Linked DNA regions of Homo sapiens: all the other regions are linked to region 3. The links come from fine-mapping of genetic effects on gene expression. A gene starts in region 3. Each other region holds a variant in brackets. All regions are shown on one strand. Distances are from middle to middle.

Evidence for each region.
Region 1: its variant is fine-mapped to the expression of TMEM115 in whole blood (INTERVAL, PIP above 0.99).
Region 2: its variant is fine-mapped to the expression of TMEM115 in whole blood (INTERVAL, PIP above 0.99).

Annotation. Positions count from the first base shown.
Region 1 is chr3:50,053,852-50,064,121 of GRCh38, forward strand. It overlaps RBM6 (RNA binding motif protein 6), which reads left to right. Exons shown (of 21, transcript NM_005777.3): 8 at 484-544; 9 at 3,877-4,152; 10 at 4,551-4,711; 11 at 5,798-5,895; 12 at 7,105-7,147; 13 at 7,289-7,370; 14 at 7,611-7,696; 15 at 8,111-8,257. Among named protein-coding and RNA genes, the nearest start is that of RBM5, 30 kb to the right of the region's middle. The variant C/CT (reference allele first, on the strand shown) is at 3,819.
Region 2 is chr3:51,058,326-51,068,595 of GRCh38, forward strand. DOCK3 (dedicator of cytokinesis 3) reads left to right here. Exons shown (of 53, transcript NM_004947.5): 6 at 6,123-6,271. Among named protein-coding and RNA genes, the nearest start is that of MANF, 320 kb to the right of the region's middle. The variant C/CAA (reference allele first, on the strand shown) is at 4,889.
Region 3 is chr3:50,354,612-50,364,881 of GRCh38, forward strand. It overlaps TMEM115 (transmembrane protein 115), which reads right to left and starts at 4,910. Exons shown (of 2, transcript NM_007024.5): 1 at 3,602-4,910; 2 at 139-936. The coding sequence starts at 4,452. The coding sequence ends at 732. CACNA2D2 (calcium voltage-gated channel auxiliary subunit alpha2delta 2) reads right to left here. Exons shown (of 38, transcript NM_006030.4): 38 at 8,002-10,195. The coding sequence ends at 10,055. LOC127898564 (CYB561D2-LOC101928965) reads left to right here. Exons shown (of 5, transcript NR_183066.1): 3 at 3,507-4,065. RefSeq lists enhancers at 4,213-5,103, 4,830-5,129, 9,957-10,270.

The DNA.
Region 1 (10,270 bases), 300 kb before region 3:
AGATAGCTGCCAGAGACACTATCTGTATCTCTTCCTCCTACCTTGTACCTCATTATCAGTGTTTGAGAAAGGAGTTGATAACTGAATTCTCAGTTCTAGCCAAATGTGAATGGGGATCTCATAGTCAGTTCAGGCCCAAGTTTTGGGTGCAGACTGTAAATGGCTTTGGGACAATAATATTCTATAAACCATGTAACAGTAGTTTTCTAGGCATATTTCCTATAGGAATCTTTATCCAGGGCAAAGGCATTTGGGCTGCACCAAAGTCCCAGATGCCTTGTTATAAGGTAGCTCTCAAACAGTAGCTCATCAGATCCCATCTGCCAGCTCTAATCAGTGGGGAATATCAGATTCTTTTTTTAAGCTTTGAGGGGATCTGGGATATGGCTTGTTTCTTTCATTTTTGGGGGGTTTCACTTTGTTAGATATACATAAGATTTTTAAAAATGTTTTCAGTCAAATTGATTTCCTTCTTCCTTACAGTGTAAGGCAAACATTGGTGGGCACCGATCTTCCTGTTCATTCTGCAAGAACCCAAGAGAAGGTGAGTGGCGAAAGTGGTAGCAGTTTTTATCTCGTGCATTGAGCAAAACAAATTTCATGTTTTCCTTGGCTTTGAAGAATTATCATCCCTAAATCCAAGTTGATCTACAAACCTTTTTTTTTTTTTTTGAGATGGAGTCTCGCTGTGTTGCCCAGGCTGGAGTGCAGTGGCACCATCTTGGCTCACTGCAACCTCCAGCTCCCAGGTTCAAGCGATTCCCCTGCCCTAGCCTCCTGATTAGCTGGGATTCCAGGCATGTGCCACCACGCCCTGTAGCCCGGCTAATTTTTTTGTATTTTTAGTAGAGACGGGGTTTCACCATGTTGGTCAGGCTGGCCTTGAACTCCTGACCTTGTGACCCGACCCACCTTGGCCTCCCATAGTGCTGGGATTACAGGTGTGAATCACTGCACAAGGCCTGCAAACCTTTATTTATTTATTTATTTTTGAGACAGAGTCTCGTACTCACCCAGGCTGGAGTGCAGTGGCGCAATCTCGGATCACTGCAAGCTCCGCCTCCCAGGTTCACGCTGTTCTCCTGCCTCAGCCTCTCTAGTAGCTGGGACTATAGGCGCCCACCACCATGCCCAGCTAATTATTTGTATTTTAGTAGAGACGGAGTTTCACCGTGTTAGCCAGGATGGTCTCGATCTCCTGACCTCGTGATCTGTCTGCCTCAGCCTCCCAAAGTGCTGCGATTACAGGCGTGAACCACCACGACCGGCCCAAACCTTTCAAAAGTGCAATTTGAGCTAGGCATGGTGGCTAACGCTTGTAATCCCAGCACTTTGGGAGGCCAAGGCAGGTGGATCACCTGTGGTCAGGAGTTCAAGACCAGCCTGACCAACATGCCGAAACCCTGTCTCTACTAAAATTACAAAAATTAGCCACAGGTGTGGTGGCACATGCTTGGAATCCCAGCTCCTTGGGAGGCTGAGACACTAGAATCGCTTGAACCCAGGAGTCAGAGGTTGCAGTGAGCTGAGATCTCGCCACTGCACTCCAGCCTAGGCAACAGAGTGAGAAAAAAAAAATTGCAGTTTGGTGCCCAACTTAACGTAACCTGTTAGTAAATGATTTCAGATCTTATTTTCACCAGAGGAAAGAGATAGGGTTGTGGGCTCCTAGGCTAAAGTGGCTAAGTGGGCAGCTGAGCAGAGGTCAGTATATTGTTATTTGGAATACATTTAAGGATTAAGGATGTTAGGTTGAAAAAGAGTCTTTATGACATCAGTCTGTGTGGCAAACCTTTCTCCCACTCCTACTTCTTTGAAGTTATTGGGAATCATTTGCTCTATTGTTTTCTCTTTTACATTCTGTAAGCATTTCAGGATTTTCAAGAGAAAAACATTTGTTAAAATAACAGTAAAAACATAAATAGGAGAAAATAATCAGGATGTGGGGAACATTTTATTATTTTAGAGGAATAAAACTACCAGCTTCTCAAGCACTTATCTTTAATGTAAATTTCTTTAGAGAAATTTCAGGTAGGCAACTTCGAAGAGTCAGACACATGCATCCATAACAACAGTCCTGTAGTCATCCCTTAAGGAAAGCCACAGCATGACCATAAAATATAGTTCAGTGCAGGGATTCAGGTAGCCTTCTGTTTGTTGCAAGGTTAGAGTTTAATGTGCCTACAAGGAGTTTCTTAGGTGGGCTTTTGTCCTCTTGTGGAGATTTTACTCTGGTGAAGACTGAAAGGCAGGTGTTCTGAAAATCTTTAGGGGAAGGCTGTGTATGTTCTAGAAACCAAACCAAAATGTGGGAAGGAGGATGAACAACTGAGATTTTTGCTTGTTAGGTCACTTCAGGTTAGGCAAAGTTGTGTTTTTTTCCCCCCACAAGAAACACTTTTTTTCAAAGCTATTCCAGCAAATGAATAGATAGTTTTTTGTTTTTTTTCTTTTTTTTTTTGAGACGGAGTCTTGCTCTGTCACCCAGGCTGAAGTGCAGTGGCGCAATCTCGGCTCACTGCAAGCTCTGCCTCCCAGGTTCACGCCATTCTCCTGCCTCAGCCTCCCAAGTAGCTGGGATTACAGGCACCCGCCACCGTGCCCAGCTAATTTTTTGTATTTTCAGTAGAGACAGGGTTTCACTGTGTTAGCCAGGATGGTCTCGATCTCCTGACCTCGTGATCTGCCCGCCTCAGTCTCCCAATGTGCTGGGATTACAGGCGTGAGCCACCGCTCCCGGCCATGAATAGATAGTGTATGAAAACCACTGGGCACCATACCACTAAGATGAGACAGCTTTAATCTGGAAACCTGTCACTGCTATTATGTAATCTCTATATTGCTCTCATATAATACCTCTTTTTGAGCCACATGGATTCCAGTGAACCCTCCAAGAATGAATTAGTTACAAGAATGTGCCCCTAATTATAAAACAAACTATAAAGACAAATTATCCTGCTGTAGTAGGACATTTGAAATAAATCATTTATATTTTGAAGGACGTCTGCCCATTATGTTTATTTGCATATAAAGGAGCTACGTGCAGATAGGGTCTGTTCCTAGCTTCACTGGAGGAGGGCCTGTGGTCTTACAGGATATGAGTAGCTGTTTGAGCACTGTAACACTGGAAGAAGCAAGGCTTCTAGATGTGTGTTTGGGATATGTGTTTCTACTAAACCTTAAGTAAGGGCCATATCTTCGGTAATTTTGTCCCCAGATGTGTTGTTATCATTGATTATGATAGTCAGGTTCAAGGTGTCATGAAGGATTTGTTATATTTAAATGTTTAGTAGGTGATATAGAGATTTCATAAGATTACATTTTTTAAATGCTTGGATAGTTTCTTCTGTGAACTATTTCATGTCCTGTCTCAGCTTCACTTAAAATATTTTGTCAGGAACTGTCAGAGGACTTTTTATTAGATATTTCTGAGATAATATTAAAAGCATTCCAGGCCGGGCGTGTTTGCTCACACCTGTAATCCCAGCACTCTGGGAGGCCGAGGCAAGTGGATCACCTGAGGTCAGGAGTTCGAGACCAGCCTGGCCAACATGGTGAAACCTCGTTTCTACTAAAAATACAAAAAATTACCTGGGCGTGGTGGTGGGCACCTGTGATCCCAGCTACTCTGAAGGCTGAGGCAGGAGAATCGCTTGAACCCGGGAGGCAGAGGTTGCAGTGAGCCAAGATCATGCCATTGCACTTCAGCTGGGCAACAAGAGCAAAACTCCGTCTCAAAAAAAAAAAAAAAAAAAAAAGGCATTCCAGTATGAGTATTTGCTGGCAGGTAAGGAGAAATTACAGTAGCAGTGTTTTTT[C/CT]TTTTTTTTTTTTTTTGATAAAGCTTTCTAGAGATTCTCTTTGTTTCTGTTCCACTAGTGACAGAGGCCAAGCAAGAATTAATAACCTACCCTCAGCCTCAGAAAACATCCATACCAGCACCATTGGAAAAACAGCCCAACCAGCCCCTAAGACCAGCTGATAAGGAACCTGAACCCAGGAAGAGGGAAGAAGGCCAAGAGTCACGCTTAGGACATCAAAAGAGAGAAGCAGAAAGGTATCTGCCTCCTTCTCGAAGGGAAGGGCCAACTTTCCGAAGAGACCGAGAGAGGGAGTCATGGTCTGGAGAGACACGCCAGGATGGAGAGAGCAAAAGTAAGTAGTTTGTCAGGGCACATACCAGACTGTGATCATCACAATGGAGCATAGATGGCCAATGTTATGTCCGGGAGCTATCTGCTTTCCAGTACCCTGAGAGATCTGTGCATGACCTGATGACAGAGGCCATTGCTGTCTGTGGACCTTCCTGTACTGCTTAAAGGAATCTATGCCCTTCAAATAGTAAATTGCTATATGAATGCAGTAAGGCATGATTTTAGATTTCTAAGTATTGGTGAAGAAAAGTATGCAGTATTTATTTGTTTAGCATTTTTTTACAGAACCAGCCTTGCTAGTAGCATCTATAGTAAAAAATGACAGTCAGATTCTTGGGACTTCAAAAATTTATCTTTCTCTCCCTTGTGTTGCCCTTCTCCCATTTATGGTTGATTCAGCTATCATGCTAAAGCGTATCTATCGTTCCACACCACCTGAGGTGATAGTGGAAGTGCTGGAGCCCTATGTCCGCCTTACTACTGCCAACGTCCGTATCATCAAGAACAGAACAGGCCCTATGGGGCATACCTATGGCTTTATTGACCTCGACTCCCATGCGGTGAGTTTCCTCCACCTTGGATTGGCCTAGAGACAGATGGCTAAAGAACCTTCAAGAAGGTTTGACTGGGGGCCGGGCCTGGTGGCTTACGCCTGTAATCCCAGCACTTTGGGAGGCCGAGGTGGGTGGATCACGAGGTCAGGAAATCAAGACCATCCTGGCTAACACGGTGAAACCCTGTCTCTACTAAAAAATACAGAAAAATTAGCTGGGCGTGGTGGCAGGCGCCTGTAGTCGCAGCTACTCGGGAGGCTGAGGCAGGAGAATGGCGTGAACTCCGGAGGCGGAGCTTGCAGTGAGCCGAGATCGCGCCACTGCACTTCAGCCTGGGTGACAGAGCGAGACTCTGTCTCAAAAAAAAAAAAAAAAAATTTGAGGGACTTCTTGATCATTTGAATTCTTGTGTGCTACCTGATATCATAATCCCTCTTGCTCTCTCCTTTGGGTTTATTGTTCATTCAGGTCAGGTGACAGCCCTCAAAAGTTAGGATCCCGTCTGGTTTTCTAGGTTCATTTTTTTCTTGTGTCATTTACTGTTTCCAACTTACTCGCTTGTGAAGAATCTGAGTACTGAATCCTTCATGATTTTAGTGAACTTTCTGATTTATTTTGTCCAGCCACAGATGGTTTTATATTTGATGATAAAACATTTCCTCTTTTTCCTCAAAGTATTTATAGATTCCTGTGGCTTAAATTTTTAGTTGCGGGGCCTTTTTCTATGGAAGTAAGGTGAAGATAATGAAAGTCATTGGTATTTCTTAGATTTTTCATGCTCAAAAGTCACAAGGGACTTTGTAAACTGAATCTGATTGATGATAATTGCAACCTAAAAGAAGAGGATTTGAATTTCTGAAGTTTATGCCAGAACTGACATCTATTCTGATTCCTGTTCCAATCAGTCCTTCATTAAAAGTTGCCTGTTTCTGCCAGTATGCTCTTACTGTTAAAATTTTGACAGAATATAATGTAGTAAATTTATCCTCTGAGAAGGAAAATCCACGTTCACTTCTCTTTCAAAGGAGAATTTTTCTGTCTTTGGGTTCTGGCATTTTCTGTCTCTGGGTTCAAGTGTGTCTGGTTCTATAGGAAGCTCTTCGTGTGGTGAAGATCTTACAGAACCTTGATCCGCCATTTAGCATTGATGGGAAGATGGTAGCTGTAAACCTGGCCACTGGAAAACGAAGGTAAGGCAGAAGGGTGAGGATCTCTTGTGCTGCCCCCACTTGTGTTTTTGAGAGGAAACTCCTTTTCCTGGCTGGAAAAACAGTAAAGCATGATGTTTTCCTAACATGGACTGCTTCAGATAGGTGTTTATTACAGTTTCTTTCTGAAGCCTGACTTGTCCTGACTCTCGAATTGTTTTCTTTCTTGAATAATACTAGGTACTTTTGTCCTTTCCCTTTTGACTGTCTGGTATCTTTGGGTCCCAAATGGCCTGGCGTGGTAGCACATATCTCTATTCCAAGCTACTAAAGAGGCTGAGGCGAGATGGGGAGCGGGTTACATGAGCCCAGGAGTTCTAGGCCATAGTGTGCAATGAAGATGCCTGTGAATAACCACTGTACTCTACCCTGGGCAACACAGCAAGACCCTATCTCTTAACAAAAAAATGATGGTACAGTTTTGGATGTGCAGACACATGTCAATACATTCTTGCCCCTTGCAATCCTAGGAAAATGCTGTCCTGGCTTTTCCTTCCCCTGACCTTGTGCATATTTCCATAGCACTGGGAAATCTAATTTCTCTTTCCTCCTTCACTCATCTTGACCCAGGAGTGGTAACTTGGAAATGGCCATGTCAGAGAAACAGGCTTACCAATATGGGGCATATCTTGCTCTAGCACCCTCCACTTAATGGCTGTTTTGCTCCACCACTTGGCTTTGTAAGAGTCTTACTGCTCATTGGGCAGGCGTGGTGGCTCACGCCTGTAATCTCAGCACCTGGGGAGGCCGAGGCGGGCAGATCATGAGGTCAGGAGATTGAGATCATCCTGGCTAACACGGTAAAACCCCGTCTCTACTAAAAATACAAAAAAAAAAAAATTAGCTGGGCGTGGTGGTGGGCACCTGTAGTCCCAGCTACTTGGGAGGCTGAGGCAGGAGAATGGTGTGAACCCAGGAGGCGGAGCTTGCAGTGAGCTGAGATCACGCCACCGCACTCCAGCCTGGGCGACAGAGCAAGACTCCGTCTCAAAAAAAAAAAAAAAAAAAAAAAGAGTCTTACTGCTCATTCTTTCAGGAGTGTCTGGACCACCCAACCTGCTTGCTGTCTAGGTTGGTTCCTTTCCCTGCAAAATGAGGAACAGAGGATTTCTCGATAGGAACTGTAGGATTAAGTACTCGTCAAATGCCACTTGGTAGCAGCCTTAAGAATTGTTGTGTTATCTGTTGCAGAAATGATTCTGGGGACCATTCTGACCACATGCATTACTATCAGGTAGGCTGTAACAGGTGGGGAGTGCTCTATTAAAATCCTCAGGTGACTATAAGGGTGATCTTGAATTTTCTTTAGTGGGTGACTGTTAAGGTGAATGACCATTGGATAGTTCTGTAATTTTAACTTGCCTTTCTGTGATAGGGTAAAAAATATTTCCGAGATAGGAGGGGAGGTGGCAGAAATTCAGACTGGTCTTCAGATACAAATCGACAAGGACAACAGTGTAAGTAACCTTTGTTTTATTTCTGTTGCTCTTTTTTGCTTGACTTGCTACTCATTACTTGACATCTGTGTGATCACAGTTGGCAAGATACACTGTTGACTGAGGGTGCTCATCCAGAGAGAGGCATCTGTAGATGCACCTATTTGTGTTGGTCACCCTAATTCTTGGGTTCTTGATGAGTCTCCAGTAAGGGCTTCATTGGACAGAGACTAACATTGGCTCTGATCTTGTTACCTTTAGCATCATCTGACTGCTACATATATGATTCTGCTACTGGCTACTATTATGACCCCTTGGCAGGAACTTATTATGACCCCAATACCCAGGTGAGTTTGGGGCTTTTTTTTTTTTTTTTTTTTTTTTACCTCTGTCAATGATTCTTTTGAGAAAAGCACCCATAATTTGCTACTTGAGGATTTTATTCCCTGGATTCTCTGGATGCTCATTGCATGAAAAGTGGAAAAGTTTAGATCTATGGAAACAGAACTGTTGCCTATATGGAAAATCAGTGCCTTGTGGCAATACAGGTAAGAACAGTGTTGCTCTTGAAAAAGTGGACAGTGGGTGGTCTGAATGTGTCCTGGTCCCTGGAGTGGGTTTTTAGATTGATGTGGACTCTTCTTAGACTTGTAAGTAAAAAAGTTGTTTCTTCCCCTAAAAGGGAACTGTGCGCCTTAGACCTGGAATTGCTGGGAAACTGAAACATTCTGTAGACTTACTTGTTTCCAACTGTATCGCAGCAAGAAGTCTATGTGCCCCAGGATCCTGGATTACCTGAGGAAGAAGAGATCAAGGAAAAAAAACCCACCAGTCAAGGAAAGTCAAGTAGCAAGAAGGAAATGTCTAAAAGAGATGGCAAGGAGAAAAAAGACAGAGGAGTGACGAGGGTAAGAGGAATTGTTAATTTGCTGTCTTTTGCCACATAGTTATTAAAATGTTGGAGGTACGAACAGAGGATATCTATGTTTGCAAGTGTAAAGTAACTTTAAAAATACTCTGTCAGCCGGGCGTGGTGGCTAACGCCTGTAATCCCAGCACTTTGGGAGGCCAAGGCGGGCGGATCATGAGGTCAGGAGATCGAGACCATCCTGGCCAACATGGTGAAACCCCTGTCTCTACTAAAAATACAAAAATTAGCTGCGTGTGGTGGTACACGCCTGTAGTCCCAGCTACTCAGGAGGCTGAGGCAGGAGAATTGCTTGAACCCTGGAGGCAGAGGTTGCAGTGAGCCGAGATCGCGCCACTACACTCCAGCCTGGCAACAGAGCAAGACTCTGTATCAAAAAAAAAAAAAAAACCTCTGTTAATGAGTATTTTTACCTGGTGTAGGCAATTCCCTCACCTCTTATATCCCAACTCTCTCTTTTACAAATGGGAAAACTATGGATGGTAGAACAAAGTGGCCCAGCTCAAATCCCAACACCTCAGCTCCATACATTTTCACTTTTCTACATTCCTTTTTTAGTGTTTGACTTTATACACATTTCTCTAGTTGTAATTATAGCAGGAGATACTGTTTAGTCACTTTTTATCCTAAGTATTTTTTCCATGTTTCTATATACTCTATTATTTTTAATGCCCACATGGTAAAAATTCACGGTATAACTGTACCTTCATTTTCTTCATCTCTCCTACATTATTTGTCTTCTCTTTCTAATCTTTTCTTTTTCCTTTTTTTTTTTTTTTTTCTGAGACAAAGTCTTCCTCTGTCTCCCAGGTTGGAGTGCAGTGGCATGATCATAGCTCACTTCTACGTCAAACCCATGGGCTTAAGCAGTCCTCCCACCTCAGCCTCCCAAGTAGCGGGGACTACAGGCATGAGCCACCATGACCAGCTAATTTTTGCTTTTTTGTAGAGACAGGATCTTGCTAGATTGACCAGGCTGATCTCGAACTTCTGGCCTCAAGTAAGCTTCCTGTCTCAGTCTCCCAAAGTGCTTCAGTTACAGGCAAGACCCACCTTGCTCGCCTCTTTCTAATCTTATACTGTCATAATATATAACATTTAGCATTTTGTTTCTTCTTTTAAATTACTCCCTATGACACATTTTCAGAATCAGAGATGATGAACATTTTTACATCTAATACAAAATCAAATTATTAGGCAGGGTGCAGTGGCTCACACCTGTAATCCCAGCACGTTGGGAGGCCAAGACAGGTGGATGCCTGAGTTTAGGAGTTTGACACCAGCAACATGGTGAAACTCCATCTCTACCAAAAATACAAAAAAAATTAGCCTACTGTGGTGATGCATGCCTGTAGTCCAAGCTACTTGGGAGACTGAGTTAAGAGGATCGCTTGAGCCCAGGAGATTGCAGTGAGCTGTGATTGCGCCACTGCACTCCAGCATGGACAACAGAGCCAGACTTGTCTCAAAAAAAAAAAAAAAAGAAAATCTGCCGGGCATGGTGGCTCATGCCTGTAATCCCAGCACTTTGAGAGGCCAAGGCAGGCGGATTACTTTAGGTCAGGAGTTTGAGACCGCCTAGCCAATATGGTGAAACCCCCATCTCTACTAAAAAGACAAAAATTAGCTGGACGTGGTGGCGCAAGCCTGTAGTCCCAGCTACTCAGGAGGCTGAGGCAGGAGAATCTCTTGAACCTGAGAGGCAGAGGTTGCAGTGAGCCAAGATCACACCTACCTTGATATCAGTTATGCATTAGTGAAAATGGATGAATTTGCTTGTGATTCAATTCATAACACCTTTTTTTCCCTTTTTTTTCTTTTGAGACGGAGCCGCTCTGTCGCCCAGGCTGGAGTGCAGTGGCGTGATCTATCTCGGCTCACTGCAACCTCCGCCTTCCAGGCTCAAGGGATTCTCCTGCCTCAGCCTCCTGAGTAGCTGGGATATCAGGCGCTGCCACAACGCCCAGCTAATTTTTGTATTTTTAGTAGAGAC
Region 2 (10,270 bases), 700 kb after region 3:
ATCAAAGTCACATTATTGCAAAAGACCACTTGTCATGGGAGATATTGTAGTTATCTTTGGAAAATGCAATCTGTGAAACTCTTGATTAAAAAAAACCATGTACAATGCCTTAAAAGACTACATTTGTATATTCTTGCATAGATAGTGTGTGTTTGTGCGTGTGGCATAGATATTGTATATGTGTATTGTGCATTTATGTATGTATTACATGTGTATGTGTGTATATATGTACATGTATATGCATTAATATACACATACATAATACGTATATGCCATCTTAGTTTGTTGGGCTGCTATAACAAAATTTTCTAAGTTGAGCAGTTTATAAACAACAGAAGTTTATTTATCACATTTCTGGAGGCTGAGAAGTCCAGGATCAAGATTGGCAGAATCAGTGTCTGGTGGGGGTCCACTTCCTCATAGTTTGCACCTTCTTGCTATGGCTTCACATGGGAGAAGGGATGAAAGAACCTCCCCTTTGGGCCTATTTTTTTTAAGGTAATAAATACAAATATTTAATTAAATATTAATAGGAAATTTGGCTGTGGGTGTATACATATATGTATAAAATAATTACATATATATGTATGTATGTATAAAATCATTTTAACTTTTATTTTAGATCTGGGGGTACATGTGTAGGTTTGTTACATGGGTATGTTGCATGATTCTGACATTTGAGATGTGAATAATCCCCTCACACGGGTAGTGAACATAGTACCTAACAGGTAAGTTTCAACCCTTGTACTTCACCCTGTCTTCACCCTCTAATAGTCCCCAGTGTCTATTGTTGTTGTTTTTATATTCATGAGTACCCAGTGTTTAGCTCCCACTTGTAAATGAGAACATACGGTGTTTGTTTTTCTGTTTCTGCATTAATTTTCTTAGGATAATGGCCTTGGGCCTATTTTATAAGGGCACTAATCCCATTCACGAGGGCTTGGCCCTTATAACCTAATTATCTCCCAAACAGTTTCACCTCCTAATACCATTGCCTTGAGGGTTAGGATTTCAATGTATGAATTTATTGAGGGGGAAATGCAGACATTTGGACCATAGCACACATGTACATTAATACACATGATGCCTCAGTATCAGTATACTTCATTAGACTTTGCTAGAAAAAAAACCACACACACACACACACACACACACACACACACACACACCCCACATCCCACATTACTTTTAATTAGTTTTCACAGATCTCAGAACTACCTAGCAATGGAACTAACTTTCTGGTCAATTCAAGTTACCACTCCGTAAGAGACTGTTTTATATCGTTTGCTCTATTCTCAAATCTCAAATACCCCTTCCCACTCTATTCACTCCCAGCTGATGATATTGCTTTTTATTTCTCTGAGAATAAAGCAGTCAGAGGAAAATTTTAGTTCTCTTATTACCAGATCTACCAGCTACCTGTATCATTACCCATATTCTGTACCCTTCCTCTCTGTGAAGAATAGGTAGGTAACACAGAGTATCAAGCCTCCTACCTAAATCAAACCCTCCCCTTTTTTCCCCAGGATCCATCTGTTCATGTCTACTCAAGGATTTAACAGCTGCATCATCAAATTTTCTCCCTCTAATAGATTATTCTCTTCAAAATTTAGTTTGAAATTTTGTCAAATCTTTTAAAAACCCTTCCTTAACCACACAGTCACATTCTGCTACCCCATTTCTCTGCTTTTAGTTACTGCAGATTCTTCAGAAGAGTTGTCTGTGCTCTTTCTCCACTTCTTCCTCTCACAATCTCACTCAAACTCACTCCAACAATTCATTGAACCTGCACATTGTGCACATGTACCCTAAAACTTAAAGTATAATAATAATAAAATAAAATAAGACATCTATTGCATATAAAAAAAAAGAAACTGTTCCTGTAGAGGTCAGTGACAGCCACCACAATGCCAAATCCCCTGGCCAATTCTCAGTTCATATTTATTTAACCCCCCAGTGCCTTTGACAAAGTCCTCCTTAAAATCCAGTTTTCTAAAATTTTCTCCCATTCTGTAGGTTGCCTGTTCACTCTGATGGTAGTTTCTTTTGCTGTGCAAAAGCTCTTTAGTTTAATTAGATCCCATTTGTCAATTTTGGCTTCTGTTGCCATTGCTTTTGGTGTTTTATACGTGAAGTCCTTGCCCATGCCTGTGTCCTGAATGGTACTGCCTAGGCTTTCTTCTAGGGTTTTTATGGTTTTAGGTCAACACTTAAGTCTTTAATCCATCTTGAATTAATTTTTGTATAAGGTGTAAGGAAGGGATCCAGTTTCAGCTTTCTACATATTGCTAGCCAGTTTTCCCAGCACCATTTATTAAATAGGGAATCCTTTCCCCATTTCTTGTTTTTGTCAGGTTTGTCAAAGATCAGATGGTTGTAGATAAGCAGCATTATTTCTGAGGGCTCTGTTCTGTTCCATTGGTCTATATCTCTGTTTTGGTACCAGTACCATGCTGTTTTGGTTACTGTAGCCTTGTAGTATAGTTTGAAGTCAAGGGCTAATATCCAGAATCTACAGTGAACTCAAACAAATTTACAAGAAAAAAACAAACAACCCTATCAACAAGTGGGCAAAGGATATGAACAGACACTTCTCAAAAGAAGACATTTATGCAGCCAACAGACACATGAAAAAATGCTCTTCATCACTGGCCATCAGAGAAATGCAAATCAAAACCACAATGAGATACCATCTCACACCAGTTAGAATGGCGATCATTAAAAAGTCAGGAAACAACAGGTGCTGGAGAGGATGTGGAGAAATAGGAACACTTTTACACTGTTGGTGGCACTGTAAACTAGTTCAACCATTGTGGAAGTCAGTGTGGCGATTCCTCAGGGATCTAGAACTTGAAATACCATTTGACCCAGCCATCCCATTACTGTATATATACCCAAAGGATTATAAATCATGCTGCTATAAAGACACATACACACGTGTGTTTATTGCGGCACTATTCACAATAGCAAAGACTTGGAACCAACCCAAATGTCCAACAGTGATAGACTGGATTAAGAAAATGTGGCACATATACACCATTGAATACAATGCAGCCATAAAAAATGATGAGTTCATGTCCTTTGTAGGGACATGGATGAAGCTGGAAACCACCATTCTCAGCAAACTATTGCAAGGACAAAAAACCAAACACCGCATGTTCTCACTCATAGATGGGAATTGAACAATGAGAACACATCGACATAGGAAGGGGAACATCACACACCGGGGCCTGATGTGGGGTGGGGAGAGGGGGGAGGGATAGCATTTGGAGATATACCTAACATTAAATGACAAGTTACTGGGTACAGCACACCAACATGGCAGATGTATACATATGTAATTAACCTGCACGTTGTGAACATGTACCCTAAAACTTAAAGTATAATAAAAAAAAAAGCCATGAAAAGAAAAATCCAGTTTTCATTTGGCTTTCATGACACATACTCTCCTGCTTTTCCTCTCACCTCACTGCTTACTCCTTCTAGTTTCCTCTGCTAAATACTTCTCACTTTCCTAACCTCTGAATGTTGGAAATCAGTGTCAGACTTAGCATGTCCAAAATTAAACTTAGTTTCCTTCTTCCAGGCATGCTTTCCAGGCCACAAAACAAGAGTGATACTTTACTCTGTTCATAACCCACATCTAGTCCGTCAGCAAATTCTGGCACCTCTACCTACAAAACATGTCAAAACTTCAAGCCCTTCTTAACATCAGCATTCTTACCTTCATCCAAGCAGCTGTTATGCTGTGAACTGTTGCACTAAATAGCCTCCTGACTGGAATCCCTGCCTTCCTCTTTGCCTTTTTATGGTTTATCTTCAATAGAGCACTCAGAGTGATGCTTTCGAGACTTAAGTCATATCACATCACTCTTCTGCTCCAAATCTCCAGTAACTTCCCATCTTGCTTAGAATAAAAGCCAAAGCCTTAAGGTGGTTTACAAAATCTGTGTTTAACCTGGTGCCTGCTGCCTGTCTGCATCATCAATCTTCCCTTTCTCAAGACACACTGACCCTGTTTTTCCTGAACATGCCATGTTTACTTCCACCTCAAGGCCTTTGCACTTGTTTCTTATGCCTGAATAATGTCCCCAGTTTTCTTAAATGTTGCCACCTTACTTCATTCAGGTGTATTCTCAAAGTTCAGCTCCCAAAAAGTCTTTCCCTGACCACTCCACCTAAAGCAGTACCTTCCCCAGTGCCCCAGCCAGCCTACCCTTGGCCACTCTGATTTTTCTTTTTATAATTTATCACCATCATTAATGATTTGCCTATTGCCTGCTCTCTAGATCAAAAGTGCCATGAGAGCAGGGACTTTTGATCACAACAAAGTGTTAGTACTCAAGAGGTGCTGCACAAGCATTTGTTAATTGGATGAATGAATGAATGCTTGTGGATGTATACATGCAATGGACTATCATATAGGCTTTGATGGGAAAATAATAATTCAAACTTTCTGTTTTATACTTAAACAGGTGATTTTGTTTTATCAATATGAAACGTATGTGTTGGAAACAAATATCACATTGCCTTTATGGCTTAATCGTCAAGATTCCAATTTTCCAGATGGTATAGTTTGCTTGGGCTTTGCTGGTTTTTGAGCTGGCAGGAATTTGTGAGTTCTCACCTTTTTCCAGCATTGTGTACCATCAGGATGCTTAACTTTTCTTCATCAGTTCATCGATTAAAGAAAGGAGAAGTTAGAGTATATGATTCCTAACATCTTCTAGTTAAAAATAATTTCTCTTTAAGATGAATCTTTAAAAGTCTAATGGGGCCAGGTGTGGTGGCTCATGTCTCTAATCCCAGCACTTTAGGGGGCTGAAGCAAGAGGATTACTTGGACCTGAGAGTTTGAGATCAGCCTGGGCAACATATCAAGACTCTAT[C/CAA]AAAAAAAAAAAATATTAGCCAGGCCTGTAATCCGAGCCACTCAGGAGGCTGAGTTGAGGGGATTGCTCAAGCCCAGGAGTTGGAGACTGCAGTGAGCTGATTATATTACTGCACTCCAACCTGGGAGAGAGTGAGATCCTGTCTCTTAATAGAAAAAAGTCACATTAGATGATTTCTAAGTAGTATGATATTCTGAATGTTTTAGTTATAAGATCACTGCCACCTCAAAACACTACCTGATTCTACTGTTTTGTGATTTGCTGTATAGCTAATTTTATTTATAGCTTCTTTGACTTGAGCTTATTTTGGCAAACATCTTTTTTAGGGTAAATCTCATACAGATATTTTACTAACATCTTAATCTGCCTTCAGAAGCATTATTTATAGATCAGTTACATCCCAAGAATTTTAATTATACAGAAACCAAAATATTCTAAAATCAAGATTTCACATATCAGCAAATAGGACTTGAGTTTTTAAACTCATACATTATTTTTAAGTACATCTTTTTTCTGAAGCATCTATTCTCATGACACTTATATTTTTCTACTTTTAAGGTTAAAACTACTACCAGGTCCATAATTAAGTTTGTTAAGATGTTTCCGTTTAACTCTTACAAAGGTGACAATTTTTATTAAACTGAAAAGACTGGAAATCTGTTACACCAGAGGGAGTCGGGGAAGGACACACCGTTTAGAAAAGCTAATTAGAAAATCAGATGAGGCCTAGAAATCAGGAGTGAATTTCACTCCAGGGACTGTGGCTTTATATTGAAACATTAGTTGCTTCAAAATAGGGCAAATGATTCTTCCTCTCCCAACTTGGATATCTCTCCTGGAGAAACCAGAGTTATTGCTGGATGGTTGAAATTTTTGCTTTTATGTGAACTGCAACTTCTGTGAGGGAAAGCAGCTCTGGGCTCCTGTGTAACATTCTGTTCTAAGTTTAGTAACTTTGATTTACTAAAGAAATGAATAATCTAGGATGTGGTAGAGATAAATGCTACTTTTGCATGATCCAAATCAATTATGTTACTTTGTTGGATGTCACTACGTAGAGATTTTTGGATAGAAGGAGGTAATGACTTTCAGACTTTAAAATTAAGTTCCTCTTTATATTACCTTAGTAGTTCAGAGAAATGAGCACTTTTCATAGTTTAACTATTTCTCTTTTTCTTTTCATTCCTTTTCCATGTCTCTTGTATTTCACCCAACACCAAAAATGCCCTTTCAGAAACACAAAGTAGATCTTTTCTACAAACTACGCCATGTGATGAATGAACTTATTGACCTGCGAAGGCAGCTACTGTCTGGTCACCTGACTCAGGATCAGGTGCGGGAGGTTAAGCGGCACATCACCGTGCGCCTGGACTGGGGTAATGAGTAAGTATGAAAATTGTTTGGGTATCTCTCAGTTTCATTTATGATAACTCAGTCTTCAGGGAGTTTGCACCTATACAAAGCTTCTCTTTAATGATTCAAAGGCAATGTTATATTCTTCACTAAGCTTTCATCATTTTTGCTAGGAGCAGTTATTTGTCCTAGTTAGCGAAGGATACTCACTGGTTCTAGTTGCTGAACCTCTTTTAGCCTCTGTTTTTGCTTCTGAAAAGAAGAGGTAAATAATAGGACTAGATTATCCTATAAAGTTAAATTTCTTTGACCTCAGATTTCTTGATTCTACACCTCCTAATCAGAATACACTTGAAAATATATTTTAGTGCTTTCTTCAAATGTGAATTTAGTGTCCTTCACATTTTATAGCCATACAATGAATCTGAATGAGCATAACCTACAAATGGAAACTGTCTACATTTGTACTTCAGAATATTTTTGACTACCTTGTCATTCAGTAATAGTCTTGCATTTATGTAATAACTATGATTTGCTATTGCCATACAAGTACAATTTGAAGACTTTGGTATGGGAAGTTAGGGTATAATTTTCAGTGAATATAATTGATATATCAATAATTGATATAATAATTAATATAACTTTATAATTGATATAAATTTCAGGTGCTTTTGTCTCATTCTCTTAAAATTGGGTCCATTGAACTTTTAAGTGACCAGGTTGCCTCCTACTTAAAATATACATATACCTTAAGTATATTTATATGTGTGTCTTTAGCTCCTTATCCTTTTTGGGAGGGGCCCACCAATAAATGAAATCTATGAGCCCATTTCTGGAAGCCGGAAAGTAGATGAAAGATTAATGACAGAGTAAATCCATTATATGTGGAGGAAACCTTAGTTAATGAGAGAGTCAGTCTGCCCCACAGCTCCCAGAATCATAGAAGGTGGGATAGGTCTTGAAGCTTTGAAAAGGACTTGGCTTAAAAGAGTGTCTAAGGAACAGTCTACCCCAATCAATGAGCAGAAACCTGGCCAGGTATTTCCTCTTCAGATAAACAAATATAAAAAATGGCTACCGGGGAAAAACTGGGCAACAGGAGTGTGAACTGGGACTTTCTTGCAAAACTCTCCACATTCTGGCATTTAAGGACTTTAAAGTATAATGAGCAGATTGCTCCCGCTTACCAGAAAGGGAAACTTGCCAGTCACCTACCCATGTACAAAAAAACTCTACAATTCTTCTGCTATCTTTTAAGTTTGAATGGACAATCAGGTATCACCAGATGTTTGAAGAAAAGCTTCTACAAGACAGAGAGAGACCAAGATTAACAAAACACCTGTACACAAAGAAAGTAACCTGTCCCCAGAGCAAATTGAGATTGATAAAGTACTTTAAAACAAAACAAAACAAAAACACTTTAATATCCTCAAATCGAATCTAAAAGATCCACTATGTAGAATAAGATGCCATGTAAAAGAAGTGGAGAATGTAATTTCCAAAATAAAATACTCAGAGAAGACAAATTTTATGTAATCCCTAGGAAAATAAGACAAATATATAGGCAATACATGAGGAAAGAAATTCAGTACAAAGGCTCTACCCAGGGAGGTCCAATATCAAACATTTTGCCTTCCAAAAAAAGAACGGGGGAAATTCTGAAGGAATAATAGAAAATTTGTCAGAGCCAAAAAACAGGAATATTAAGATTGAAAGCGTCCCACTAAATATTTATAATGAATGGAAAAACAAAACAAACAAACAAAAACTCACAACGAGGCACATTAAGATAGCTTAGTATTCTAGGAATGAAGAGAAGACTATTTAAGGGTTTTAGACAGAAAAATAGTTCCTCTCACAAAAGAATAAGTATCATACTGTCCTCAAAAGTGTTATCATTAGCACTGGATGCTAGGAGATAATGAAATAATATGTTCAGAGTTCTGTAGGGAAATGATTTGCCAGCCAGAGTTTTATTTTACAAATCCCAACCATCTAATTAAGTGAGAGGGGACACAAACCATAAAGCCATTTTTAGGTATTCAGGGATGCACGAAAGTTCCCTCTCATGACCCCTTCTTAAGAAGGGACTTGCGGATGTGCTTCTGCAAAGTAGAAGAATAAATCAGGAAAGAGGAAACATGGAATCTAATCAACAGTAGATCACACCCAAATTGGTAGTGTTCATCAGTAGAAAAGAGGAAATATAACACTAAATTCGTTGTTTGTGACCTTTTTGAAGCCACAACTTTATATCTTTGTTTGTTTTGTTTAATTACACCCTATCATGACTGTTAGTAGGATTGCTTGGCACCTACCACAGACTACCTTCTATAATAGTGTATAACATGAATTTAGGTGTACCATAGATCAGTGTTCCCTAAATCTAACTTTGGGGAATAACAATTTAGTAAAATACAGTATGTTGATGTACAGCATAGCTACTAATTCTGCCTCTTCAAACCCAAACATTTTTATGTTATGAAATTATGTCACTTTTTATTTTTAAGTCAATGATAAGAATACAGTAATTGCAAATATAACATTACTGTGTGCCAAGCAAATTGGTCACAGTTGAACTGATGACACTAATAAATGTGTAATTCATTATGTTGCAGTTTAACTGCAACTATAGATTCCATTAAATAGAACTATTTCAGAACTATCAGTACCTATACCTCTTTATTATGAAACTTGAAAAACAAACCAATCTGATTTTGCAATCAAATCTGAAAATAAATAGATGATAGCTTAGAAACAAGTTCAAATTGTACTTGAAAAAGGCTCAGAACATTATAAATACCTGCCAGTAAATTACAGGGCTATTCCAATTTCATGACTTTTTCTCAATGAAATATGTTTGTGTGTGTGTGTGTGTGTGTGTGTGTGTGCGCGCGCGTTGGAGGGGTATGTATATGCATATCTTAATAAGCAAAAATGAAAAACACAGTTCCATTCCCCTCCCCACTTCCCTTCTCCCTCTTTCCTATTTCTCCTTTTCTCCCTTCCCTACTTTCCGTCTTCTTTTCTTCTCCTTTCTTCCTCCCCTTGCACTTCTTTCCCCCACCCCTCTCTTCCTTTTTTTCTTATTTTCTCCTTTCCTTCAGTGGAAAATATAGTCACTTAAAAACCTAAACAAGAACTTTGCAGGTCTGTCATTATTGAAAGGAAAAGACATGTTGCACCAAAACTGATAGGACTGTTCTTTCTGATTTCTCCTTGAGCTTACTCTTTTAAAACTTTTCTTCCTATTTTGAAAGAAAAGATGGTATATTGTAAAAACAAAGTCATTTCATACCATTAGATTATGTAAAACAGACTGTTCCACACAAAAGCTGAGAACAGATGACTATAACCATTGTTCCCATTTTATTCTGATAGTTCCACACTTCTTGTTCCACCACACTTTTATAAATGCCATAAAATCTTGAAGTTTAGCACATGTTAGCATGTGAATCAGTGTTTTCCAAATGTATTTTAATGTTTTAATTGATGTAATTAAATATATGATTTTAAACTCTTATGCCTTTTCTCTAAGCTCTTACACAGACATTATAGCTCTGCCTTTTCAGAATCTATTTCAGAAACTAGTAATTGTTATTAGTAGTGTATTGATTAAATATGTCTACATCACTATGGCAAGTACATGGTCTCACTTCATGCACTGTTGTAACGAAATGCTACTATGCCTTGGCCGGGCGCGGTGGCTCACGCCTGTAATCCCAGCACTTTGGGAGGCCGAGGCGGGCAGATCACGAGGTCAAGAGATCGAGACCATCCTGGCTAACACGGTGAAACCCTGTCTCTACTAAAAATACAAAAAATTAGCCGGGCGTGGTGGCGGGCGCCTGTAGTCCCAGCTACTCGGGAGGGTGAGGCAGGAGAATGGTGTGAACCCAGGAGGCGGAGCTTGCAGTGAGCCGAGGTTGCGCCACTGCACTCCAGCCTGGGCGACAGAGCGAGACTCCGTCTGAAAAAAAAAAAAAAAAAAAAAAAGAAGAAGAAGAAATGCTGCTATGCCTTTCTAGG
Region 3 (10,270 bases):
GGTGGCGGTGGTGGGGAGCTGGGGCAATGGGCTTCTTATCCAGCTGGAGTTACCATGGAGACAATCAAGTCCCTGTCTAACATTGCAGTTGAACGTGATGAGGGGGCTGCACAAGGTGGCCTGACAAGAGCCCAGGAGTCATTCCTCAGAGAACTGCTTTATTGATACTGCGAGCCTGGGCTTGGCTGCCCACTCAAGTGGTCCTGTAGAAAATACCTGGGAGCTGGAGCTGTTCTGGTCCAGAAGCAGTCACCGCCACAGCAGAGGGAAACAAATCCTGACAGGAACAGTCTTTCTGGGGATGGGCAGGGATGTGCAGCCCCAGGTCGGCTCCTGCATTTGCTGGGCCCCCAGAACATTTTTGGCAAATCCTTGCCTTGGCTCAGGGCTCTCGGCAACCAGTTTCAGATGTGAGGGCCGGCCCAGGAGCTGTGGCATCAGTGTCCCTGCAGCCACTTGCTTGGGGCTGCCAGCTGATGTACATTCTTACCTCAGATGAGGGCCTGGACTGGCCGATGCCTCAGAGGCTCCGGGCCTGGCATAGTGGTTGTCTGGAGTTGGAACCAGGTAGCAAGAGTCCTGGGTAGTGTTGGCGAGAAACAGCAGAAGGCCATGGAAAGCCCCAGCAGGCCTTCTTCCCTCTCCTCAGAGCAGTCAGGTGCCCTGGAGTAGCTGAGAGGATGTCAAGGGGGGCTTGGGAGGGGAGGTGCCACACTCAAGGTGGTCTGGAGTTACAGCGTCGGGGGAGCTGCCTCGAAGGTGATTAGACTGGATTCTGGGGCAGCCCCCTTCCCTGGGGGTGTGGGAGCTTTGTCTGAGGGCAGGGGGCTGTCCACCTTGGCCCCAGACTCCTCTTCATCATCATCCATGCTGGGCCAGATGGACTGGTCTTCCACTCTCTTCAGCCGCTCATTGAGTGCCTTCAGGGCCAGTTGCCTGGGGCCAGAGGAGAGAGGAAAGGTCACTCTGGGTTTGGCCTTGGCTCATGCCCTCTACCCTTCCGCAGCAGGCTGACTCCTCACCGTACCACCTAGACTCCTCCCCCAGAATCCTATGTTTCCCCTTCACCATGCAGAGCCTGGGACTCCCCAGAGATTGGTTTAGGACCCACTCTGCCATCAGAATGATAACCCAAAGGCTCTAAGAATCTTCCCTCCATAGCTGAGGCACCTCCGGGATGGGAAGGTCAGCTGGGTGTCTGCCAGACTGCCCACGAGGCCAGCCACCAGGAATGGTTCTGAGGGTGGTATCTAAGGGTCAGTGGAACTAGTGCCCTAGGGCAGATGGGTGGAACGGCAAGTTCTGGAGTTTCCAGGAGTTTCTGCCTGGGTGCTGGCATCACATCCAAGGGAAGGGTTATTAATTCTCCCCCTCTCCTGGTTAGGGGTATCTTGAGCCTCCTGGCAAGGGTCAATGGGGAAGGCTGGAATTCAACACCTCCCTTGGCTCTCAGCCCAGGAAGCAGGGCCAACTTGGGTGAGTCTACCCCTCCTAACTGATGCTAATATTCTCCCTCTCAGAAGAACCCCCAAAGCCACCAAGGCCCTTGTTAGAGCAGGGACTTAGCGGAGCCCTTGCAAGAGGAGAAGAAGGAGAAACAGCTCACATGGGTAGGCACAGGCCAGAGCCTACTGCTTCCACAGGGTGGACCCTTAGAGGCCCCACTTTGAGGGCAGGTGGGAAAGTCCAACAGAAGAAGGTTTACACATGTGCTTGGGACCCTGACCCACCAGAAGGTGGAGTGCTGCAGCTGCCAGGGAACCGTTTCAACAGTGACCACTGTGGACTCCTATACCTCAGCCTCTCTGTGCCACCAATGTGGGGACAGCCTGTGTAGCCTTTCAGGTTCCAGCTGAGAACCAAAATCTCCACCATGTCAGGGAACACGACAAGAGAGGCAACAAGGGCACAGGTGTAGAAAGCCCTAGCACGCTTCCCCCCTGCCCGTCAGTCTCACACATGACAAGTTGGTATAGACAGGACAGTCTTTCCCTGCTGCTACCCAGGCTGCCATCCTGATGATGCCCTTGCCAGTTCCATCTAAAGCCTGCCAAGGCAGAGAGCTAGTGTTACGCTAGTCACTTCCTCACAAGGACCAGAGAGACAGATAGGAAACCCTGCCTCCCTCTCCTGGTAGCCCTTTGGAGTTGGGCGTGGCCATGCAGTCAGATGTCAAACTGGCTGGAGGAATAACCGCCACCCCCATGTAAGCTAACAACCATAAGGCTATGCCAAGAACCCGCCTCTTGACCCTCCCTTCCTCCCCACCAACCTGCTTCCCCCCTGTCCATTTTCTTGGGCCTAGGCAGAGGTTTTTGAATGTCCAGCCAACCCTAACATTCCAACACCTCTCAGTGGAGGAGGGGTCCCCACTGGCCTGGCCCCACCTGAATGGCTCTGAGGGACAGCTCAATTCCTACCAGGCCCAGCTCACCTGGCCCCATCTTTAATACCAGCTAAGGTTAAGAGAGACTTCTGTCCTTAGGGCTTATCACCTATAAAGACCCAAGCTCTAGGGCCCAGAATTATGCCCTGCAGCATGCTGTATATACTTTTCAACACCTACCATACCTTGGGCCATAGTGATCTGTGGCCCTTCCCCAGCTGGAACTCCTTCAAGAAAGGAGTGTGTCCCACACTCAATTCCATAGCCCAGTGGAGAGTAAATACAGGGATAACTGCAGCTAAATTCATAGAGCTTCCTGCCACAACCCCATTCACAGGTGAGCAAAAGCAGGAGCCTTGGCAATGCAAAAGACAAAGCCCGTCCCAGATTTTACTACTCGAGTAATTGCCTCAAAACAGTGAGGAATAATGTTGGAAATGGAGCTGTGGATCTTATGAAGGCTGGGACCACTCTGCTGGCTCCACAGATCTGGGAGAGAGAGTAAGCTGAATTTAAAAAGATCCCTCCTGCCCTGGCCAAAGTGCATTCAGTGAATAATTCAGCTGGGACTCCTGATGCTGTGGATAGCTTGGTTTACAGATAATGAAAGGGTCATCGCCACTCCCTGGTGTCAGCAGGCTCCCTCAGTGGGTCATGTAGCCTGTCCCTGGTTTTGGTGACACATGCTTGCTGGAGACAGAGGTAAATGTGGTAATACCCCAAGCTTCCCTCTCAATAAGTAAGTGGCAGAGAAGCACAGCATCTGAGTTAAAGCCCAGGAAGAGGACACAGCATTTGGAAATTGGAGTGGCCCAGATCACCTTTTGAGGACCCCAGGCCTCCTTCCCTGTCCCTTCCTCACAGGGGAAAGTACCAGCAGGTTGCTTCTGGCTCCCACAGGCCCAATGTCTAGGATTCTGAGATTCTGAGGCAAGGCCAGGGTTCTGTGTCCCTCCACTGGGACTTCACAGCACCAAAGGAAACTGCATTTCTTGAGACTTATTAAGTGGCCCGAGTGGTGAGAAAAGTGCCTCGTGGACCCCAGACACCTAACTGCTGAGTTCCTTAAGGCCAAAGACTGATTTTGTCTTTCCGGATGTGCCCCAATACCTGACTGTAGGTCTCCACCTATGTACAGCGAACACCTCAACAGATGGCATGTGACTCGACCAGTATGCTCCTAGCTTGACAAGATTTTGGAAAATTTCACAGTACCTTCTCCGCTCGGCGTCTTGAGGGTCTGTGCCTGGCAGGCTGATGGTGATGGAGGATGGGGCACCCACATCGTAGCGCTTCACCGTCTTCTGGCATATCTTTACCTTCACCAGGAGGCTGTGCACCAAGTTCGCCAGCAAACCCACCACAGGCTGCAGGATCTCAGGGAAGAAAGTGGCGAAAGCAAAGTGGTCAGCCATGTCCCCTCGGCCCCGGCTATGGCGCTGGTAGAAGCGAAGATATACCCAACTGGAGAGCAGCCCGAAGCCATAGGAAGCCAGCGCCGGGCTCTGGAGCAGCGTGGCGAGCCGCAGCAGGAGCAGCAGCGCCAGCAGCAGCATGGGCATCACACTGACGCGCACCTGGGGCACTCGCAGGACCACACAGTCCCCCATGGTTTGCTTGAGTGCCACCAGGACGCCACCTAGGAAGCCCAAGGCGCCGTGGATACGGACAGTGAACAGGTAGACCAGGTTGAAGGAAGCCATGTAGGTGAGGAGGTAGGCGAAGGCCCCCAGCAGCCCTACAGACACATTCACCACTGAGAAGAAGATGAGCAGCTCCAAGGCCCCCCAGAGGGGCTCCAGCAAACGCCCGGCCACCACCACCGTTGTCAGGCTGATGGCCACGTCCCACACATGCTGCTCCATCAGCCCATGGGTGGCCAGGGTCCAGATCCAGAAGTTGGGAGGAAAGAGGTAGCCCGGGGTGACCGCCAGGCAGCCTGTGTCCACGGCGAAGGAGAGCAGGTAGAGGAATAGTACCGCCGCACACAGAGCCTTCACCACCACGCTGGCGCTGGCCAGAATGGCCCCCAAGTGCTGGCGGGCGCCTGGCAGGGCACGTTGCATCTTCCTGGCGGCTGTCGGCCTGAGAAAAGGGTCTGGTAGGCCAGGGGCCTCCCCGGGGCCTCGTCCTAGTCCGGCCCCGATGGGAGGCCCAGGCCCGGCCTAGTCACTGGCCTATGGCCCTGGTAAAGGATCCGCTTCCGATCGGGTGGGGCTCTGGTCCCGAGGGGCCGAGTCGGGCCTTGTTGCCGGGCCGCAGCGTAGGCCCCTCGCCCGGGACCTGAGGGAAGGCCCTGGACGGCTGCGGCACGCCCGCCTACCCACCCTGTAGGCCCCGTGCCAGGCTAGCCTGGTTGGCGTTGACCTCAGGGCTGGGCCTCCTCCATCCACTGCGAGGCCCTTCGGTTCGCAAGGGGACTGGTGCCTCGTTCTGTACCCGAGTCAAGCCTGGTCAGCTCCCGCTCGGCCTGGCTCCTGGCTTCGACCGTACCTCTTCTCTCGGGGGGCCGACAAACAGGGGTGCTGCGCCTGCGCGTCCCCGGCGGCAGCGGGCTGTCCTCTAAGCGCCTGTCTTCCGGCTCCTCTGCATGCTGGGATACGGAGTCCTTGGTTGCAGCCGGGGAAGAGTTGAACAGGGTTCTGGCTAGAACTACAAGTCCCAGGAGGCCATGAGCACGGACCGGTCCCGTTGTGGTGAGCGCGGGGTGTGCTGGGAGTTGTAGTTCTCAGGGACCGTTTCCGTCGGTTCTCAGGAGGTGGGAAGGGATGAATTAGCATCTCTAACCCCTGAAAGCGGCGGTGAGGGTTCGGGAAGCAACACAGCTCTAGCCCCCACACTTGCTGAATTCCCTAGGAAGAGTAGCTCTATTTGTGCGTGTACCTCTGAGCGAGTGTGTCCTTGTTGGCTGGCGTGTGGGTAGGTGTCACTGTGTGAGAAACAGAACCTCCGTGGTCTGGTGAATGGGACCTGACCCAGGCTGGAACCCTTGCTCTGCCTCGGAGGCTGTGTGGCATTGGTTGGTTAAGTTCCTGAACCTTTTTGAAACTCAGTTTCATGGGCCATAAAATGTAGCTGATGACATGATCTTCCTGTCCTAATAATCAAAGGGGAAAGGGGTGTAAAATGCCAGTCCACCCTGGGTGCTCAGCGAGTGCTGCACATGTTGCCTTTTTTTGTTTGTTTTCTCCCACTTGGAAAAGTTTTTTGTTTGTTATTTCACGTTGCCCTTTTTCCAAGTGAGGTGGACCTGGAGCACGAACCTAGGGCTCCCTCCCGCATAGGGACGAGGCTGGGCAGCCCTCAGTGACCCTCCTCCCCACCAGGGACTTCTGATAACTGCGGAGGATGAGAGGTCTCTCTACAAGCCAGGTCTCTCCACAAGCCTGGGCTAGGCCTGTTCTGGTCCCACTTCACGCCACAGTGACTTCTGACAGGTTGTGTTCTGTGTCTTTTTTTTTTTTTTGTATATGGAGTTACTTTTAAAAAACTGTACATATAGGCTGGGCACGGTGGCTCACGCCTGTAATCCCAGCACTTTGGGAGGCTGAGGCGGGCAGATCACCTGAGGTCGGGAGTTTGAGACCAGCCTGACCAACATGGATAAACCTCATCTCTACTAAAAATACAAAATTAGCCAGGTGTGGTGGCACATGCCTGTAATCCCATCTACTCGGGATGCTGAGGCAGGAGAATCGCTTGAACCCGGGAGGCGGAGGTTGCGGTGAGCCAAGATCATGCCATTGCACTACAGCCTGGGCAACAAGAGCGAAACTTTGTCTCAAAACAAAACAAAAAGCTGTCCATATAATTAAAATAATTCTATGACAAAGTGCTTTTATAAAACACAGGATCCCTTCCTTTCAGCCACTGATTTCAGTGTGTGCTGATGTGTGCATGGCCTACAGGTTAAAAAGGGTGCTGATGCTTTTTTTCTGGGGTCTGGGTTCCCACTGGTTGCCACATCTGGGTAAGGTTGCCAGTTTTAGCAAATCAAAATAAGGATGCTCAGTCAAATTTGAATTCCAGATAAACAATGAGTAATCTTCGAGTATAATCATGTCCCCCTGCCCCCTTTTTTTTTTTTTTTTTTTTTTGAGACAGGGTCTAGCTTTGTCCAAGGCTGGAGTGCAGTGGCACAATCATAGCTCACTGCCACCTCTAACTCCTGGGCTGAAGGGATCCTCCAGCCTCAGCCTCCTGATTAGCTGCGACTACAGGCACACACTACTGTGCCCAGCTAATTTTTAAAATTTTTTTATTTTGTAGAGACATGGGCAGGGGCGGGGTGGCCATCCTACCCAGGCTGATCTCGAACTCGTGAGCTCAAGCGATCCTCCTGCATCAGCCTCCCAAAGTGTTGGGATTACAGGCGTTAGCCACTGTGCCCAGCCCCCAGTTTTTCAGTATAGGTATGTCCCACACAATAGTTGAAACACTTCCATACTAAAAACTCGTTCATGATCTGAAATTCAAAATAGGGTGTTCTGTATTTTATCTTACAACCCTATCCAAGATTGCACGGTCTCTTGCAGGCCATGGGAGCTGTCTTGGGGGTTGTGGATTAGGCATTGCTCTGCAGCCGAACCCTGCAGAGGAGACAGAAAAAGTCTCCATCTTGGCTGAGGCCTCGAAGCCCCTTCATCTATTTAGCATCCAAGCTCCCCAACCCTTGGTGGCCACCTCTTCTCTAAAATCTTTGCTGGTTTTTAGCCTTCTCACCTGGGGGGAAAGGCTTTCTCCTCTTAGTTTGCTCATCTGTGGTATGGGGATACACTAGTACCCACCCCAGAGACTGTGGCGAGGACTCAGCCAGGTCAGTGCGCAGAGAGCAGAGTGTTGGGAGGAGAGAGAGGACTGTGGTGGGAAGGCAGGGACACCTGTGCTCTGGTGGTTACAGGTTATAATTCTCTCCACATGAGAAGATCGCAAAGGTCACACCTTCTAGGGTGAAAATGAACTAGGGCCTAAGCTTGAGAGGATTCACAAAAATGAAGTTTGGCCTATGGCTCCAGTTTAAGCAGCTGCGGCCTCAAGCTCCTGTGGGCCAGGAGGGAGCCGTTGCTGCACTTGTGGTCAGGGCTTCCTGGGCCGTAGGGACACTGGCCAGGTGCTCACTCATAGCTCCCGGCAGAGGCCCTGTCAGGCCCTGGTGGTCTGACCAGACTGCCAGATCCACCTCCCCACTAAACCAGCATCTCTGATCTGTCTTCTTCCCTCCAGGGTCCTGGCTTTCAGGCTCTGGGAGGGTGTTTGTTTTGCTTGTATTTTTTTTTTTTCTGAGACAAGAGTCTCGCTCGGTCATCCAGGCTGGGGTGCGGTGGCGCAATCTTGGCTCACTGCAACCTCCGTCTCCTGGGGTCAAGCAATTATCCTGCCTCAGCCTCCTAAGTAGCTGGGATTACAGGCGCATGCCACCATGCCTGGCTAATTTTTTTGTATTTTTAGTAGAGACGGGGTTTCACCATGTTGGCCAGGCTGGTCTCAAACTCCTGACCTCAAGTGATCTGCCCGCCTCGGCCTCCCAAAATGCTAGATTACAGGCATGAGCCACCGCACCCAGCCTGTCTTGCTTGTTTTTAAAAGACAGCTTTTTGAGATGTTATGAGACAATGTATGTCAAGGGCCTGGCACCTATTATAACTGGTGGAAGCAAGTGCCATGCCCTGTGGTTGACAGGGACCTGGGCTACCATGGTCTTCACCCCCTGCAGAGCACTAAGTGGGACTCTGAGGTCTTGGCCAACTGTCTTCATAGCTACCCAGTCCTCACCCCCAAGCTGATACAGTGGATGGGAACCATTTGAAGTGAAAATATGAACATTATTTAATAACTGATCTTCTGTAATAAACCATTTGAAAATATTTTACAAGGAATCACACACACGATATTTTACAAAGTTTCTTGACTTTTTTGTCGCTGTTGTTTTTCCAACTTGTCTGTACAAAATAGAACAACAAAAAAAGGGCAGAGAAAAGGAAATGGCCCCCCAGTCCCCCAGCCCAAGGTGAGGGGCAGCCAGGTCGGGTGGGTAATGAGAAGGATTAGACCCAGCTGGGGGTTAGACAGCTACCTGATGGGGATTGTTTTGTCTGTTTTTCTGTTTTTTAAACTTAAAATATATATTTTTCTGTATATGTTTATATTCTCCATTGAGCACCTGACTACACTACAGTTACACGCACGCCCCCGAAGGACACAGCTGGCATCCAGGCCGGGTGCACATGGACACCCACCCTGGCACCAGCAGTGGGCATGGACCACACACACACACTGAGAAAGCGACAAGCAACATGACATTAATTAACGAAGCCATTAATTAATGCATCACCCTCCCCCTCCTCCCAGTCCATCTGAGCCCCATCACTATATCCCCTTGCCCTCAGTTCCCCACTGGCCCCCAGGCTGGGATGCCTTTGGGGGAAATGACCAGAATGAATGGTGTGAAGAGCTGTGCCCAGTCCCCACCTGTGTGTGTGTGTGTGTGTGTGTGTTCAGCAAGGGAGGGACAGTTTGGCCTCCTGCAAGCAGGGAGTGTGTGTGTAGGGGTGGGAAGGAGATAGGGAGTGGGCACAGGCCTGAGTGTGTAAGGGCCAGATTGGCGGAAGGATGGCCCAGCCAGGAGAGACAAAGTCACCCCTGCTAAGGCAAAGGGTGATGTCTGGTGGGGGTTCCTCTGCCGAAAGGTGCAGGCAGTGGCATGTGGTCCCACTGGGGGCCTGACACTAGTGAGAAATGGTTACAATGAGCACCTGGAGAGGTGAGGGGGCACTTGGAGGACACTGGTGGCTAGGGGTGGGACAGAGGGTTCTTCACCCCCTGCCCCAGCATTTGGCACTGTTTGACATTCAGCTTTAGAAATGGGAGGACCAGCCAGGCTGCAGCTCAGATTAGAGGCAGGTGGTGAGCAGGAGATGGAGTGTGCAGGTGCCAACCCTCCCACCAACCCCTCGCCCTGTGTAAGGCTTTGTAAGCCCCTACACCCACCCCACCCCATAGTGTGTGTGTTTGTGCGTGTGCCCAGTGGGGTATGTCGAATGTGAGTCCAGTTTCCATCCTCAATGTTCCAGGTGTATATGGGGTAGTGTCTGAACTGGTATCACTGTGACTATCCTGACACCTGGTGGGCTTGGGGATGTGGCTGTAGGCCTGAAAGGGGCAGGAGCCCATGGGGGCTGCCCCAGAGCCTCTCTCCTGCTAGGATTTAAGCTGGGAGGCACAGGCTTCAAACTGGCCATCTCACCTTCCTCCACTATTCTCACAGAAACCAAGTTTGGGCTTGGGTGGGGCAGAGAGGCCGGGTCAGCTGAGGCAGGGTCCCCCCCAACATAGGCAGCCTCCAGGAAGGGCGGCAGCAGAGGCCTGGTTTTGGCACCAGTGCGTGTGGCCTCCCTGTCCCATCCCACTGGGGGGAGCCCAGCAGGCAAGAAGGGTCTGGGGACACTTGAACAGTTCGGAGGTGAGATGTGATTTGGGTGCCAAACACCTGCGGCGTCCCGCTTTGGGACTCCCCATCCCAAGGCGCAGACCAGACTCTCAGGGCCTGGCCAGCTCAGGTCCTTCAGTGAGGGAGGGACGAGGCTCTAAGGCGGGGAGTGTGGGGCAGGAGGGTGGGAAAGGCGAAGAGGCCGGGTGAGGTGGGAGTGGAGGTGGGGTGGGGCAGGGTGCTCAGAGGCGGCGAGAGGCGTGGACGAGGACTTGAGGCTGCGGCCGGGGCGGCAGGCCCAGGAGGAGCAGCAGTTGCAGGGAGACCAGGACGCCCAGCGACGGCGGGAAGGAGGCCCCGCGGCCACAGTCTGAGGTATCTTCCTGCGGGGAGAGACAAGGAGCTGGTCGGCCTGGGCGGGCGCAAGGCCGCGGGATTTCGGGTCCACCGCCCCCTCT